4 separate regions of the Homo sapiens genome follow, and all the other regions are reported to be linked to region 1. Evidence: microRNA targets listed by miRTarBase, many of them from high-throughput screens and not tested one by one. Region 1 holds a microRNA gene; each other region holds the end of a gene's coding sequence.

Region 1 (4,155 bases):
TCTACGCATTATCAGAATCATTGAATATATTTCTGTAAAATGGCTACAAGATACCTATAAACATTCTTCAAAGGGATCAAACTGCTAAAATATTTTATTATTCCTGTTTTTATTTTGTTTCAAGAATGATTGATTAATTCATCTTTTCTAGTAGCTTGATATTAAGGGACTAATATTTTCCACATATTCTACGTTTTAACCACATTCGCATTAATGAAGAAAATATTTTTTAAAATGTTTCAACAGGAGGTTTGACTTTGCTGCAAACAAGGTAAAGATACTAGTACTGTTTGACTTCAGAAAGCTGTTTTGCTATATTTTCTAATAATTGCATGTAATGTTTTTCATATTCTAATTTCCCCTAAAAACACATTTGTCTCATTATTTATGTGAAAATATTCTTTTATTTACCATAGTCATGAAAATGCTGAACAAATTGGAATACAAACTTCCATAGAAATAAATATTTAAGTGCTAAATGTAAAGATAGCTAGGAGAAATTATTAGACAATTTTTATTGCACATAACTAAACATGGTTACATTTAAACATATAGATTTTGCAAAGGACACTGCATGAAAATTTGGTTTTTGTTTGTAATATCAAATGTATTTGTTGTCCTCATAGCTAATACATGTAAATGTGTGTATGAGGGGAGGGGTAGATATACAATGAAATGTCTTCAGTTATATTCAGCCCATGGACACAAAAGAAAAGAAACACCCATTTTCCTTGTTCCCTTAATTTCCTCTCCTCCTTACCCCTCCTCTCCTTCGCTTTGCCCTCCTCCTTATCTCTCTCCACCCCTTTTGGCTCCTTTAGACTTCTCTTCACTCATCACCCCACCCCTTCCTAGGCAAGCCCATATCTACTCCTCTCTCCTCCTCTGTCTTCCCTGCCTGTTACTCCCTCCCTACTCCCCATGTGGCCTCCTTATGCCTCCATTTCTTTTTTTTAGTTCTCTCTCTCCTTGCCTCCTCACCCTTTCTTTCCCCTGAACTCTCAATCCTTCTTCCTTTCTCATTCCTCTCCCCTTTTCCTCCCTATCCTGCTCTTCCCAGGAGATGCTACAACTCACAGTCCTTTTTTAGGATACCAAATGACTACTATCCCCCACCAACCATTTATTGAAAAGACTACAAACTTAGGGGTTTTAGCTCAAAAAATTGCAACATATTTGTAGTTGCCTCGTGGTTGCAAGCTTTTTATAAGCACTGTGGCTATTTTTCTTCCCAATCCAACTTTAGTGGGGGGGTGTTTGCCACTTACAGTACCTTGACATCACATTAAGTTCTGTTTATTTCCCTCTTTCTCTTTAGATGCAAAAAATAATCAATAAGTATAAAATTTTGCTGATATGTGTTTGTGTGTTCTTAAGCTCAAAAAGAGTTGAAAGAGAACTGTTCAGCCTATTTTTTTTGTCATGAGTAAAAGTAAAGTTGAAGTGACTTAAGACAGTACATCTTATGTTCCCTGTGGGTTTTACAAGGAAATTCTGCTATTAGATAAGCTTTGGAAAAGTTACAGGAGGTATCTGAATATACAGCACACTGAGAGCTGTCATAAAGTTCTGGGGTGGGGTTTCTTATATATGCCCTCATAACTTCAGAGACGGCACAGCTCTAATGAACACTCACTTCTAGTTCACTCACAGGCATTTTCTGGATACAAACAAGTCCTCAAAAAGAATTTTGGTCGTCTTACAAATTTGTGAACATTGTATTTAATTCATGTGTTTTAATCCACCAATGGAGAAACATAGTCTGTTTTATATTTCCTGTAGATTATAAACATGCCAAGTTTTAAGTACAAAGATGCGTCACCTAGTGGCTGACAAGCCAGGTTACCATTTACATAACGAATGCCAATATTAATGTTATGTAGCTGGCTTTGGTAGTTTATAATGAGCTTTAAAAAATTCATATGCGTGAATTTTAAATGTTAACACTGCTCTCCTAAGGAAATTAGTATGTTACGGATAAATATTGCAAACACATATACTGACACGAAAACACAATGGTAACAATATTCAGAGTCTTTTTGGAAATTAGCTTAAATGTTACGGCCACTTAAAAATTCTACATATGACTATTGTTTAAATACATTTTTCATGTCTCTGATGTAGTCCTTATTTGACATAAGTATTTTATTCACTGCTTAATTGTTAGATAGATTATAGACAGCTGTTACTAAGTAATACTGCTCCATTAGGGCAGAAACAGAAACTTTATTTTAATTAAATGTGTACTAATGTTTGAGTTTCTATATTTTGCTACAGTGATAATTCCAGTAAAATAAACTGTAGGCCTCTAGTTGTTTTAGAATTTTAAAACTGTAAATGGACTCAGAGAATCAGTTTCTTATTAGACGTCATGAGAGTATATTTTTTTCATTATGCTTTAAGAGGGAATTTGTAACTTGCTCAGGTAACATTCAAGTTTTCTGGTTTGTGTTTGTCCCTACAATTAAACACACTGAACTAACAGGAAAAGGTTACATACATTTAGGAACAATTGCACTTTTAAAGGGAGAGAATGCATAGTTGCTCACATATCTCAGTGTCAGTCACCTAACATGGATCAGTGCTTTATTTGAGATTACAAAACTAGAAAATGACGGAGTCAAGGCTAGGACCAATATTCTGTTCAGTCTTAGATAATTATAGAATACACATTAAAATCAGATATTTGAATTTTCTTAATTTTGTAACTATTTGTCATTGAAAGGAGATACTAAAAAAATTATATATCGTCCTAGAAAGTACATGAACTAATAATGCATTTCTAAAGGTGAAAAAAGAATAGGTATTTTTCTGTTTAATATTCAATTTTATAGAGAGTAGTACGTTAATTTTTTTAAACCCCAGAAGCTCAGGATCTTATCATTTTAAAAGAAATTATCACCAGTTCTGTGTGAGTAAATAAAGTATTATAACACTTTGTGTTTTTCATCCATGATACCTTGTATTTACTTACCTGAGCTTTTTTTCTAGGGAAAGAAAAATGCTCAGGTAATAACAGAGCCTTGAAAAATTTGGATTTTCAAAACTACCTATTTATGTATAGGCCTTTAGATCATCTGATGTTGAATACTCTTTAAGTGATCTAAAGGCCTACATATAAAAAGGTATTTTTATTAAATTCTGGAATTAAACATTTCAGCATTACAAGAAAAGAAAGCAAATCCACTGGAACAATTCTGGGAAAGAAGGAAAGACTGTGATTAAATGCCTCTTAACTACTTCAGATTCCTGGATTGATGTCTTATCTACAGGCTTCTTTTTAAAAATCAAGAATGATTGGCTGTGAGTTTACCAGGATTATAGTTGAGGCTAAAGGACAGCTCCTCAGGAAAGCCCCTGTTCTACATCTACGGTCACATGCTGGACCTTGAGTTGTCACTCAGAGAAAAGAGTGCCATCTACCGAAACTCCACAGTTTCCATTGTGAATGGCTTCTTTGGTGCAGAGTTCCAAAAATTATGTAGCCCAGCTCTTTAATTTTGTAACATCTAATGATATCACCGCCTTGAAGTGATTAAAGTAGATTGCTTAAAGAATTAAAGCTTTAAAGATGAAAGATGTTATTGCTTTTGCTGGACATGAGGAACAGTTGTAAAGTTTCCAGGTCTACAATAACTTTCTGGAACCCTCTCAGTGAACTGTTTCTTGTAAAAGTTTTCCCTAAGATAAAAGCTCAATCCCATTGTTTCCACACTCAAAAAAAAAAAAAAAAAAAAGATCATATAGTGTAAAAAAAAACTCTCCAGACTTTTCAAAGGGGAAACTTTGCCTGTTTCATGTCAAGATGACAACGGAAAAAATGAGATAGCTATTCTTACATAAATCATTTGTGAACTGCAGTTGGGGGAGTTACATTAACCACCAGAGTTTCAGTCTGTGTCTAATGAAAACACAGCAGAAGTGGATTCCTTTCAGATTAACTAATAAAACCCTTGTTTTTTTCCATGACTGAGGTCAAGCACTGCTGTTTAAAATGTAGTCTTAATGAACAAAATGAAACGTTGAAAGAGGACGAGTCAAAATGCCCAAAAGATGTAAACATCAAAGAGAAAAGATCCAGAAATTATTAAAAGTTAAACTTCCCTTGAATTCTAGTATTAAGAAAGTACTGCTTCAGTAAAATGGCATATATTT
Region 2 (4,000 bases), not on the chromosome of region 1:
CCATTGCTACTTTGATAATCTATGTATCTAAAAATGTGAGATGTGCGACTCTTATGATACTGATTTTCCTTTAATGTTAATATGCCAGAAAGCATACATCTAAGGGAACATTGTCCTTCAAAGTAGACACTTTGGGAAGTTATTTCTTTATTTTAATGATGTATCATTGTTAAAAATGCTGTCAAATCCTTAATAGCTACAGGAGCTACTGAGGGAAATCAGTGTCATTATTTAAAGTCACGCCTTGTGTTTTTACTACTTTATTCAGCAGGATTAAACCTGAATAACTTTTGGCTGTTGTGCTAATAGTGTAAATAAAATAAGCCTGCCTTCATAAAACACTAACTTTTAAAAGGAATAAACGACTTCTAAAATTATGCCTATTAACATGTGTAATTAGTCGGCAGCTCAAATGTTTGGGAGTGCAAGAAATTAGGCACCCCAGGATATAGGTCATACAGGGATATATAAAAGCCATGCTCATTACAAAATGAGCAGTTGATGTTTTATGTGGCATTAAGACAATCAAGTCCTCACAACTCTGGAATGTCTTCTTATACTGATGCTGAATTTATGAATCCAAATTAATTTCCAACAGGTTGGAATCAGATTTAATGTGAGATCATGATAGACAAGACCACAGAGGACGTATGCTCTATTTCTTGTTGGCCAACAGCTTCTTTCTAATGTTCTGTGAAAAATTATTTTAAGTGTCTTATATAATGGTGCTTTTATGGTTATTAAAAATTGTAAATGGTATCACATTTATATGGATTTGTCATTGGATCTTTTTTTGGTTCAACAATAAAAAAATTTAATTACCTAAATGCCAAGAAACTCAACAATATACCAGTTTTTCTGTATCACAGGCTTATTTACCAGTCTTTTTTTTAATAAATAGGAATCGTAAAGGTAATGACAAAAGCAGCCTTATAATTTAGTTGCTTATATATTTGATCTGTGTACATGAGACTGTTTTAACGTTATCTGACACTACTGAAACCTGCTCGACATCTCCATGACTACCAACACCATGTGTAATGTTTTCTTCACTAACATTTTAAAAACTGGTATCTCCTTTGAGTAAGTTTGGCTGACAATAGTAAATCCCAATGAATCTAAGGTGTTATCAGCTTTGCTAACTTCTGTATCTCCAAGCACAACATAAAATAATCTCCTAATGATCTACTTAATAATGCTCCCATTTTCCAGGCCCAGGTAGTCCTGGGTATCTTGGTTGATAGGGTGGTGGCATAACCAGCTCAATATGGATGGCTTGACTCGTCTGGGCTGGTAGAGGGGAGAAATGTCAGAGAGCTCAAAGTGGAAATTACCATCCTTTGATTTCACATGAGCGGTTCAAAGGACCAGATTCAAGCCCTCCTGACTTGGCTGGCTCCCTGCTTTAGGGTTTTTGGCTCACTTGGGTTAAGTGAGTGACCACTATGGAGAAGTGGCTCTGGGTTACATAACTTTTCTAGAGCTCTAAAGAATAGTTTCCTGGCCTATTTAATGTCTCTTCTTTCCCTAGCTGACCCCTGAAATATTTGGTTTGTAAACCATAAAAATTGATTAAATGCCATCAACTTTATCCCCTGTAGAAGTGATCTGTTTTTCAACTCCCATGGCTTCTGATTTGTGTAACTCTTTGAACACCCAATATTGACTTGTATTGTGTTCGCTGTTTGCATCATTCATAGAACTGGCAAATGCTCTTTATGGGCAATAGGGTCTCATTAAATGATTGCTGAATAAATAACACAAATTTTTACCATTATCCCTTATGATGCAGTATGTTGACTTTGTAGTCATTAAATTGTCACTTTTGAGGGGATAATATGCACATATACTCAAGCTTCATATTTTGTTTCATGTAGCTTGGATGTTATTTATAATTTATAAAAAAGTGTGCGCATTACATATCTATCAACATAATGGGTGTTCTACATGAGAACAGACAATAGCAGTTGTACCAAGGATTCAAAAAAGAAAAGGTTAAATTCTTGTAATTTTTTCTGTTCTCCTGTTTGAAACCCAAGTTTTATTCCTTGTTCTAGAGTGGATCACTGCAAAATTAGGATGTGAAAACCAAACTGTTTTAGAAACAAAACAAGTCTCATTAATAAGACTTGCAGAATACTTAAGTTACAGGGAGTAGCAAAATAGACAATTTTGTTAATGCTTTTTACAGAACAGAAAAATCATGGCTCAGAGTTATGGAAGGAAACAAGTCAATTTTTTAAAAGATTTATTCTTGGCTTTAAACGTATTTATAATTAGATTTGAAAACATGATATTATACAGACATTTAAGGCATTAAAACATCTGATTTAAGACCTTCTCCATGCAATTAACTCCCAGTTAGAAATGTTTTATCCCTTTTCTCTATTAAACCTAAGAAAGTAACAAATATTGGCCGGGCACAGTGGCTCACGCCTATAATCCCAGCACTTTGGGAGGCTGAGGCAGATGGATCACCTGACATCAGGAGTTTGAGACCAGCTTGGCCAACATGGTAAAACCCAGTCTCTACTAAAAATGCAAAAATTAGCTGGGCATGGTGGTGCGTCCCTGTAATCCCAGCTACTAGGGAGGCTTGAGGTGGGAGAATTACGTGAACCCGGGAAGTGGAGGCTGCAGTGAGCCAGGATCATGCCACTGCACTCCAGCATGGGCGACAAAGCAAGACTCCATCTCCAAAAAAAAAAAAAAAGGACGTAACAAATGAGAGTATCATCTTAAATTGAATTAATCTTCTGCTTTTGTGGTAAGTTTAAAAGGGCATAGGCTCTGGGTCCTGTGATAGCGCTAAAAATAAAGCAGGCAGAATCAGTGCCAATTTGAAAGCAAGATATTTTCTCAAGTTTGAGTTTGGATGACCATTTTGTTGAAAAAAAAAATAAATTAACTATGAAATCTTCTGATTTAAAGTATTTGAATTTTTAGTTGAAGTAATTTAATTTCAGAGATCACACTGGAATAGTAAAAAGGAATTAGAGTTACACTGAGGGTTCTATTTTTCTTATAATCATGCTGACTTAAGGATGAAGAATTGCTCAAAAGGAAACACCACTCTTCATATTCATCCTGACTTTTGAACAGGATGGAACTATAGCAGAACCAACATATTTGCATTAAGGAGAACTATTTCATAGTGAGTTACCTCTAAAAAAAATCCCCTAAAATAGTAGCTAAACTAAAAGGAATTATCTGCATCAAAATAACTGTACTAAGAGACCTCATTCCATTTAATGACACAATCTAAAAGAAAATGGTATGTTTATTTCACTTGTAAAATAATACTTGTAGTGATCAAATCCAAAGATTTAAAAGATTTTCTTTTCCCCTTTTTTTTTTCTTTGTAAAGATGGGGGTCTCCCTATGTTGCCCAGGCTGGTCTTGAACTCCTGGCCTCAAGCACTCCTCCCACCTCAGCTTCTCAAAGTGTTGGGATTACAGGCATGAGCCACCGAGCTCAGCCAAAGATGTTTTTCTTGATTAGTTAATAAATTACATTTAGTTTTAAGATATGCAACTGAAGCAAAAGTATACCAATACGGAATCGGGCAAAACGATTTTTGCCCGATACACAAACGCTGAGGTAAATTTGAAACTAATTTCTTTTCTCATTGTGCAACATAAGTACTAATGTGTGGTTTGAAATTATATTCCAGTCTTATAAACTGGAAAGGTTAAGCGTCAATAATTTATTGTCGCCTTTGCAAATGCTTAGATATATTTTTTAGTTGTAATTGTGTCCTGCTTATTTTTCTCACATTCTTCCGTACTGGCCTGGGAACTCTCCTGTTCTTTGATCAGAGATGTAGTACAACGTCGTTTCAGTCTGAGATAATCTTCTGAACTGGTGGGAGCAGTCCTAGTGGATTCACTGACAGATATAAATTGTTTTTCTCCTGTTGAACCAGACAAAAGAGCTTGGGTATTTATCAATGCAAGTTCTTCGTCAGCTATTGAATTACTTTCCAAAAGAGAAATTTCA
Region 3 (4,000 bases), not on the chromosome of region 1:
GACTCAGAGGTTGCAATGAACAAAGATGGCAACATTGTGCTGCATCCTGGGAAGACTGAGCAAGACCCTATCTCAAAAAAAAAAAAAAATTAGATATTTATATAAATATGTTATATCATCTGTTTTTATAAAAGTAATTGATGATACACCATTTTTTCCCTAGATGCATGAAGAAGCAGAGGCTGTGTTGGCAACACCACCAAAGCAACCTATAGTTGATACATCTGCTGAATCCTGACCTCATATTTATGATGGATATAGATACATACTATATATATTCATATTTGTGGATTTCCTAAAAGCCTCAGAAAATACGACTGACTAGGCAGCAAAGACAGGAGTATCTTCTGTACACTGTTCCGCAGTTACTGGTACATGAACAGTTGGAACTGCTGACTTTCCTAACCAAAACAACTTCCTTCTCTCCTTTGTTGAGCCTTTTGAGGGGTTCATGATTCATTACCACAGTTTTAAGAGTTTCAGTTACCATTGTATGCAAGAGCCAAGCACTGAATACCTACATAGGTTTTCTATTTTCTTTCATTTTAAAAGCATAATGACAGTGGAACAATAATGGGATATGCAGAAGCACCCTTCACAAGTTATTTCTGAATGATTTTTAGGGTAAATAATACAGATGCCTTGTTTGTTAACTAACTTGTGGAAAGCAGGAATCAGTGTCTCTAAGGCTGCATCCTATTACCACAATGGGGTGTGCTATAACTGCTGGTATTAGAGAGGGAACTTTGGCCCTTTCACGTTTTTCTTAATGTTTGTAACACTACTTCAGAGGTTTATAACCTCAAAGCAGAAGAAGAGCCTCAACAACCCGGGACTTATAAGTTATTTTTATGTTACTAGACTTGCATAAAGATTCTTGTTTTCCAACTCTTCATTTTGTTGCAATGTGTTATTACAGGATATATGAACCAATTAAGGTTTTTCACTACAGTTCTTGAATAAAATTTAAAAATCATTTTTTATTTTAATTAAAAATATTTCCCATTTATAGAATGCATATATTTGCAATGGACTTCCACTTTCATCAACTTTCCATCTCATCGCTTTAAACAGGAACTTGAACAAGCACTGTTAGTTTAGACCTAAAGGATAGGAAAGCATTAAATAATACTTTGGATCTCCTGAGGAAAAGATAAGTTTGCTTGCAATTTACACATTCCATGGGGAAAGAAGAGCCATATTTCCTTAAAAAAAACATTAATAAAGCTTGTTATTGAGAAAAATTGTAGTGAAAAGCCTTAAGTACCAAATTTTAAAGCAGCAGTAACTTAATTTTTATATCAGTGTTTTTGTTTTGCACAAACTAAATGCAGTGGTAGGTGGGTTTATGAGTATATTAATTGCCTTTATCCATTTGTGAAGTTAAGTTGATGAGGGCAAGGTTTTTGTTTGTTTAATTTGTATATGTCTAAAGGTATTTGGAACTTTTTACAGGAATTAAACATATATGCAAATTTGTATATAAAAATAGCATGGCCATCATTTGAATGCTTGTAAATGAAAGGATTATCTTTTTTGAGATCTATATATAAATAGAAATAGAAAATCCAGCTGGACTGATTAGGATTCTTTTTTAATTCATTTGTGTATAACATTTTTATTACAATTACACATCAGTTTTGACACAGTCATAGCAACATTAATATTTTCCCATGATGCAGATCCTTTTTGTAATGGGCTTGTTCTTTGAGATCTCTGTAAAGAACCCTGTGAACTAGAAAACATAACTCACAGAGATACTTTTTTAAAAAATTTATTTACTGGAACTGAAAGTTCCAGTTGGGATGAAGCATTTCATCTCACTTCATAACACCTCTTTGACTGCACTTCAGTGAATTGTTCTTATGTGCACTGTGTAGCAACTTACATTATAACAAAGCAGATAAGGGCTGTAAGCTGCTGCTTATGTTGAAAAGTGGTTCTTCAGATTTTCTCTCATAAAATCCAGTTGAAGATAAATAATTTTTTTATACTTTATCACTGAACCCAAGTGTTTATTTAAATGTCAACAGTACTTCTAAGAACGTTGCCTGTCATCGTGGTCTTTGGTCTTGGATAACTAAACTGCCTTTCCAGAGAACCAAATGTCAGAGTTACTAGACCAAATAGTGGTTAAAACCTCCAAAGGAAGTAATGTAATCTTATTCATAATGGGATTAACATATTTTAGACATTCATTTTAAACACTACCTCAGTTAATATAGAGTATAAAAATCTGTGGTTTAATCCCTCAAAAGTTAACAGTAATTTTTTTTTTGTCTTACACACACACACACCCCCTCCCCCACCATCACTATCCCTGTACCCTCACCTTGGTCATCTATCCTGAAATAAGGCTTAGTTAGTATTGGCCTGAATGTTTTGTGTTTTTTTTTTTGTTTTTTTTTTTTACTGTTACTTTGAAAAATATGTATGTATACCTTATCATATCTGCCTATATCACTTACTTTGGGGAGATACTCAGAGCTTTGTGGTTATCAGTATACTAAAAAAAAAAAAAAGTCTACGCTTAAATTTATAGTGCTATTTGGTTTCTCCATGATTTCACTGACAGGTCTAATACATTTTCTTTGAGTACTTGTTTGTAAAAAGTAGACTTTATGGTGAAAAATACATGCAGTGCCAAGTGATTAACTTAAGTGTTTAAAAATATTAAATTATAGCAGAAGAGGTTAGGAATGATATCAGCAGTAATAGAAATAATTGAGAAAATCATCTATAAATAATAGATATTACAGACTATAGAATACCAAAATAATGTCAATACTGTAGTTTTTAAAGATTTTAGGATTAATCTTAGTCCATATAAATTTGTACTATTGGTAATTATTGAATAATTGGGAGGAATCTGGGCAGTTGTGCTGGTTGTAAACTATGAATTTCTAATCGTAAAGTGAATTGTTATTTCTAATTGAACTTTTTTTCAAGAACAGATTTCAGCCTCACATACTAAGTAAATACTGATAAATAAGGAAATTAGAAATTTAGTATTCATAATTAAATATGCTCTAAAATTTCCTATACTTTTATTTCCTGTTTATTCTTAGGTAGATTGGAAGGGGGAAACAGTCTGTTCTCCCTAATTAAATTTTTTCTAATAACGATTAGTAGAATATGGACATTCTATATGACAGTGACATTAAAAGAGGCTCTTTGGAAGTATATACATTATTAACATAATGTGTACAAGTCCTTTTGAAATGACAACTTTAATGGGTTTCAGCTCTTTTATCTAGAGCTTGAGATAATTCAAGCTGAGTTTTTCAGGGCATATCACAACGGCCAAGTGTTCAGCAGTGGGATATCAATGCTTATTTACATTTTCCTACTGCTATTTATATAAAATGTTATTCCATTCAGAGGATGCCTTTTATCCCCACATTAAAGCACAGATCATTAAGCAATAAAAACCAAATTGTCTGTCATTCAAATTATAACTGCAGTTATTTTTGCATGGTAAGAGTGAGGTGCTAATTTTGTGTGAGATGAACTTTGTAAACTACTTTGGGAAATGTTCTTTGGAAGTAAGGTTTTTTCTCCTTTAGTCTTATGCTTCCACTTTTGTCTCAGATTCACAATCCATTAAAACATGGGGAAAAAAGAAAAGGTAAAATTGAGAGACTTTTGTTAGAGGAGCTATTTGGAATGAACCAACATTTCAGATTTTCCAAAATGTAAGTTAGGAAGTCTCCATTGTCTCTGCATTAACAAAATACACTGTTACTATCTTAATCTCAAGAGTGTCATTACAGTGAGAATCTCATTTAAAAGCATACCAGTGAAATTAATAGCAGTGCTTATCAAAGAACACTGAAATCTGTGAGAATCTTTCTAGGAGCATTCTTTTCTTCTTTTAGTTCCAAGTTCCAGGGTATTTTTCATTCCTAGTAGGTTTATATGACTCACAGAATGTGGACTTTTTTCCTGTTTGGAGTATTTTTGTAATGTAAGTATCGGATAGCTGCACCACAGCATGCAT
Region 4 (4,000 bases), not on the chromosome of region 1:
TAATCTTATTGTACATCAGAGAAATCATACAGTAGAGAAGTCATATCTATGTAGTGAATGTGGAAAAGGTTTTACTGTGAAAAGCATGCTCATCATACATCAGCGAACTCATACAGGAGAGAAGCCCTACACATGCAGTGAATGTGGGAAAGGCTTCCCCTTGAAGAGTCGGCTGATTGTACATCAGCGAACTCATACTGGAGAGAAACCTTACAGGTGCAGTGAATGTGGGAAAGGTTTCATTGTGAATAGCGGACTGATGTTACATCAGCGAACTCATACTGGAGAGAAACCGTACATATGCAATGAATGTGGAAAAGGTTTTGCCTTTAAGAGCAATCTTGTTGTACACCAGCGAACTCATACTGGAGAGAAACCCTTTATGTGCAGTGAATGTGGAAAAGGCTTCACCATGAAACGCTATCTCATTGTACATCAGCAAATTCATACAGAAGAGAAATCTTGTATATGTAGTGAATGTGGAAGAGGCTTTGCCAAGGAAACAGAGCTTGCTTTACATAAGCAAGTTCATACTGGAGAAAAACCTTATGGATGTAATGAATGTGGTAAAGGCTTCACTATGAAGAGCCGTCTAATTGTTCATCAACGAACTCATACAGGAGAGAAACCCTTTGTATGCAGTGAATGTAGAAAAGCCTTCTCCTCAAAGAGAAATCTCATTGTACATCAGCGAACTCATAATGGAAACAAACCCTGACAATGCAGTGGACATGTTCATGCCTTTGGGAAGAAAATCTGCCTTGTACAACATCAGAGATTTCACAGTATAGATTTTCTACATGTGTACTGAGTATGAAAAATCATATTTCAAAATCCAGTGTTATTCACTAGGATGAATGCTATCAATGTCAGAAAGGCTTCAACATGAATTCAGGCTCTGAATTCTTTGATGTACCAATGTATAGAAAATTACTCATCTGAGAGAGAGTCTGTGGATTGGGGGTAACCTTTCATTTGTCAACCTTCATTAAAACTATGACAACGTCCACATGACAAATGTGTAAGGTACATAGTCCTTTTGCAGAGAATCTGAACTGATTACATACAAACAAATTCATGCAGAGAGAAAACCACGTTAGTAATGTGAACTGATTAAACAGCAGTGTGCTCCTAGCATACATGCATATAGGCAGTGTAGAGCAGCCTGTTGCTAGATTTTCACCCTTGGAAGACAATGCAATTTCCAGGAGCGAATTTTAATGAATGCAGAGAATGCACTAGTGCCTTCGGTGATTAATTACCTCATATTTTATGTCACAATAAACATGTAGGAAATAAACTTGATACATCCAATGCAGAAAAGTCTTGAAAATTTTCTAAGTAACTATGTCTTGAAAAGTATTTACTGAGATAAATCTTACAAAGGAGTAGGCTAGGAAAGCCTTCTATGGGAAGAAAGACCCTATCTCTTCAGTGATCATAATAGATCATCAATGAACTTACACATACTAGCAGCATTATCATGGGAAAGCCTTTGCCCAGAAATAAAACCTTAACAGTTGGCAGATATATTTCATACTGGAGAACAAGTTTCAGATGGCAGTGAATACACGAGGATTTCAGTGATACATGCTGCCTCATCATCATTACTTCATACAGAAATAAAACTTATATGAAGAGTAACTTTAAAAAGGATCAGGAAATTCATGAAGTAAAAAAGTCTCATGAAAATGATACATAATGCCGGGCATGGTGGCTTGCACCTGTAATCCCAGCACTTTGGGAGGCCAAGGTGGGTGGATCACTTGAGGTCGGGAGTTCGAGACCAGCCTGACCAACATGGTGAAGCCCCCCTCTCTACTAAAAATACAAAATTAGCCGAGCATGGTGGCTCACGCTTGTAATCCCAGCTACTCTGGAGGCTAAGCTGGAGAATCACTTGAACCTGGGAGGCAGAGGTTTCAGTGAGCCAAGATTGCGCCATTGCATTCCAGCCTGGGCAACAAGAGCGAAACTCTGCCTCAAAAAAAAAAAAAAAAAACCATATTTGAGGACTGTCACAAATCTAAACTCATGATACACTTGATATCTATTCTGTGACAGCATACCTTGCATCATATTATCAATGATTCCATAATTGTAAAGCGGGCTGTTCTTATCACTGATTAAATTTTAATCCTATATATAACACAGGTGTTTTCTGTGCCAATCTGGTGTTATTTATTAGTTCTTACATATTATAGGCCCCAAATTTATTTTTTTCAATTTACTGATAAATGTAATTCAGTATATTTGGATGTGTTTATCCAAGTTACTAGGTACCATTATGTAGTTTACAAAAATGCCTTAAATGTTATTTTTCTAAAATTTGTTTTGAAATAATTCTAGATTCACAAGAGATTACAAAATATACAAAAGTTTCCTGAGTATTCTTTGCTTAGCATCATCAATGTTATCTTACATAACCATAATAATAAAAACCACGGAGTTCTGCTCTTGTTGCCCAGGTTGGAGTGTAATAGCACGATCTTGGCTCACTGCAACCCCGCCTCCCAGGTTCAAGAGATTTTCCTGCCTCAGCCTCCTAAGTAGCTGGGATTACAGGCACCCACGACCACGCTCGACTAATTTTTGTATTTTTAGTAGAGACGGGGTTTCACTGTGTTGGCCAGGCTGGCCTTGAACTCTCGACCCCGGGCGGTCCACCCGCCTCAGCCTCCCAAAGTGCTGGGATTACAGGCATGAGCCACCACGCCTGGCCTCCTCTTGCTACCTCTTTATACTCACACTGTCCTCCCAATATGACCCATGGTAGCCACTGATCCCATTACCCTAATTTTGTTATTTCAAGAATGCTATTAAAATGGAATCGTAAGGTACGCAAGCTTTGAGATAGGGCTTTGTTCACTCAGCAAATTACCCTTAAGATCTATCCAAGTTGTTAGGTGTCTAAATAGTTTTAATTTTTGTTACTGAGTTAGTATTCTTTTAAATGGATGCACCAGGGTTTGTGTATCCATTCACTGTTGATGGACATTTGGGTTGTTTCCAGTGTTTTGCTGTTATAAATAAAGATGCTGTGACTATTTGTGTACCCGATATTGTGCGAACGTTAAGTTTTTATATATTTGGGATAGACACTGGGGGCATGACTGCTGGCGAATATGGTAAATGTGTTTAACTTTATAAGAAATGGCCAAACTCTTTCCCAGAGTGGCTGTACTAGTTTACATTCCCACCACCAATGTGTAAGCATTCCATGCCCTTTCTAGCTCTTGGCATTGCCAGTGTGCTTTAGCTTTCCTATTAGGTGTGTGGTGGTATATGATCATGGCCTCAACTTACACACCCCTAACACAAAATGATATTAAGCATCTCTACATCCACTGAGAACCATATCAAGTAAAATTGTAACTTTTGCTTCCAACCAGCAAACCCAATGTTTAAAACTCAAAAGAATATTATATTTTATAATATATTTACCCTTTCTGTTCCTTTTTCTTCATTCCTGATGTAATATTTCCTTTAGTTATTTCCTTTTTGTGCGAACTTCCTTAATCATTTCTCTTTGAGCAGGCCTGGTGGCAAAAAATTATTAGTTTCCCTAGAAACAGGGTTCCTGTTTTCTCTATCCAGAGTTATTTCCCTTGATCTAATGAGATTTAATCCAGTTTATAAATGGTGAGTTCTCTTTATAAAAGTAATAGACATTTGCCATATAGTATTGTGGCAGAATTCAATCCCTGACTCCATATTGAGTAATTTACTTCTTTGAAAATATTTTTTGAGCTTCTACACCATGGCAGGCATGTTGTAGGCAATGGAGACACATCAATGAACAAAACAGGCAAAGTGCTGGCTTTGATATGACATACAGTCTGGTGAAGGAGACTGAGTAAGATAAATACAAAATCGAATTCAGTTAAGTGCTAGGAAGAAATATAAAGCCTGGTAAGTTCATAGATTGTAACCTGAGTTATTTTAGGAAGAGTTTTCAGGATAGGCTTTTCTGTGCAGATATAATTTGAACCAAAGCCTA

Evidence for each region. Region 1 holds the annotated microRNA hsa-miR-1245a (AAGUGAUCUAAAGGCCUACAU, at 3,097-3,117, shown strand). A microRNA usually pairs through its seed, bases 2 to 8, with sites in the 3' UTR of a target mRNA and lowers its output. Matches are read on the target gene's strand: a 7mer-m8 pairs with bases 2 to 8, a 7mer-A1 pairs with bases 2 to 7 and ends in A, and an 8mer does both.
Region 2: the mRNA of BRCA2 is a reported target of hsa-miR-1245a. Seed matches in the 3' UTR shown: 8mer at 3,307-3,314.
Region 3: miRTarBase lists RICTOR as a target of hsa-miR-1245a. Seed matches in the 3' UTR shown: 7mer-A1 at 2,311-2,317.
Region 4: the mRNA of ZNF432 is a reported target of hsa-miR-1245a. Seed matches in the 3' UTR shown: 7mer-m8 at 1,761-1,767.

The regions. Positions count from the first base shown.
Region 1 is chr2:188,975,040-188,979,194 of GRCh38, forward strand. It overlaps MIR1245A (microRNA 1245a), which reads left to right and starts at 3,053; the gene lies at 3,053-3,122. All of the region lies in intron 1 of COL3A1 (collagen type III alpha 1 chain), which reads left to right. It overlaps MIR1245B (microRNA 1245b), which reads right to left and starts at 3,122; the gene lies at 3,054-3,122. All of the region lies in intron 1 of LOC105373791 (a long non-coding RNA gene), which reads right to left.
Region 2 is chr13:32,398,500-32,402,499 of GRCh38, reverse strand. It overlaps BRCA2 (BRCA2 DNA repair associated), which reads right to left. Exons shown (of 27, transcript NM_000059.4): 27 at 2,232-4,000. The coding sequence ends at 3,730. N4BP2L1 (NEDD4 binding protein 2 like 1) reads left to right here. Exons shown (of 5, transcript NM_052818.3): 5 at 1-1,777. Among named protein-coding and RNA genes, the nearest start is that of N4BP2L1, 28 kb to the left of the region's middle.
Region 3 is chr5:38,938,542-38,942,541 of GRCh38, reverse strand. It overlaps RICTOR (RPTOR independent companion of MTOR complex 2), which reads left to right. Exons shown (of 38, transcript NM_152756.5): 38 at 164-4,000. The coding sequence ends at 238. It also overlaps a transcript of OSMR not described here. Among named protein-coding and RNA genes, the nearest start is that of OSMR, 95 kb to the right of the region's middle.
Region 4 is chr19:52,030,438-52,034,437 of GRCh38, reverse strand. ZNF432 (zinc finger protein 432) reads left to right here. Exons shown (of 5, transcript NM_014650.4): 5 at 1-3,060. The coding sequence ends at 718. Among named protein-coding and RNA genes, the nearest start is that of ZNF614, 4.1 kb to the right of the region's middle.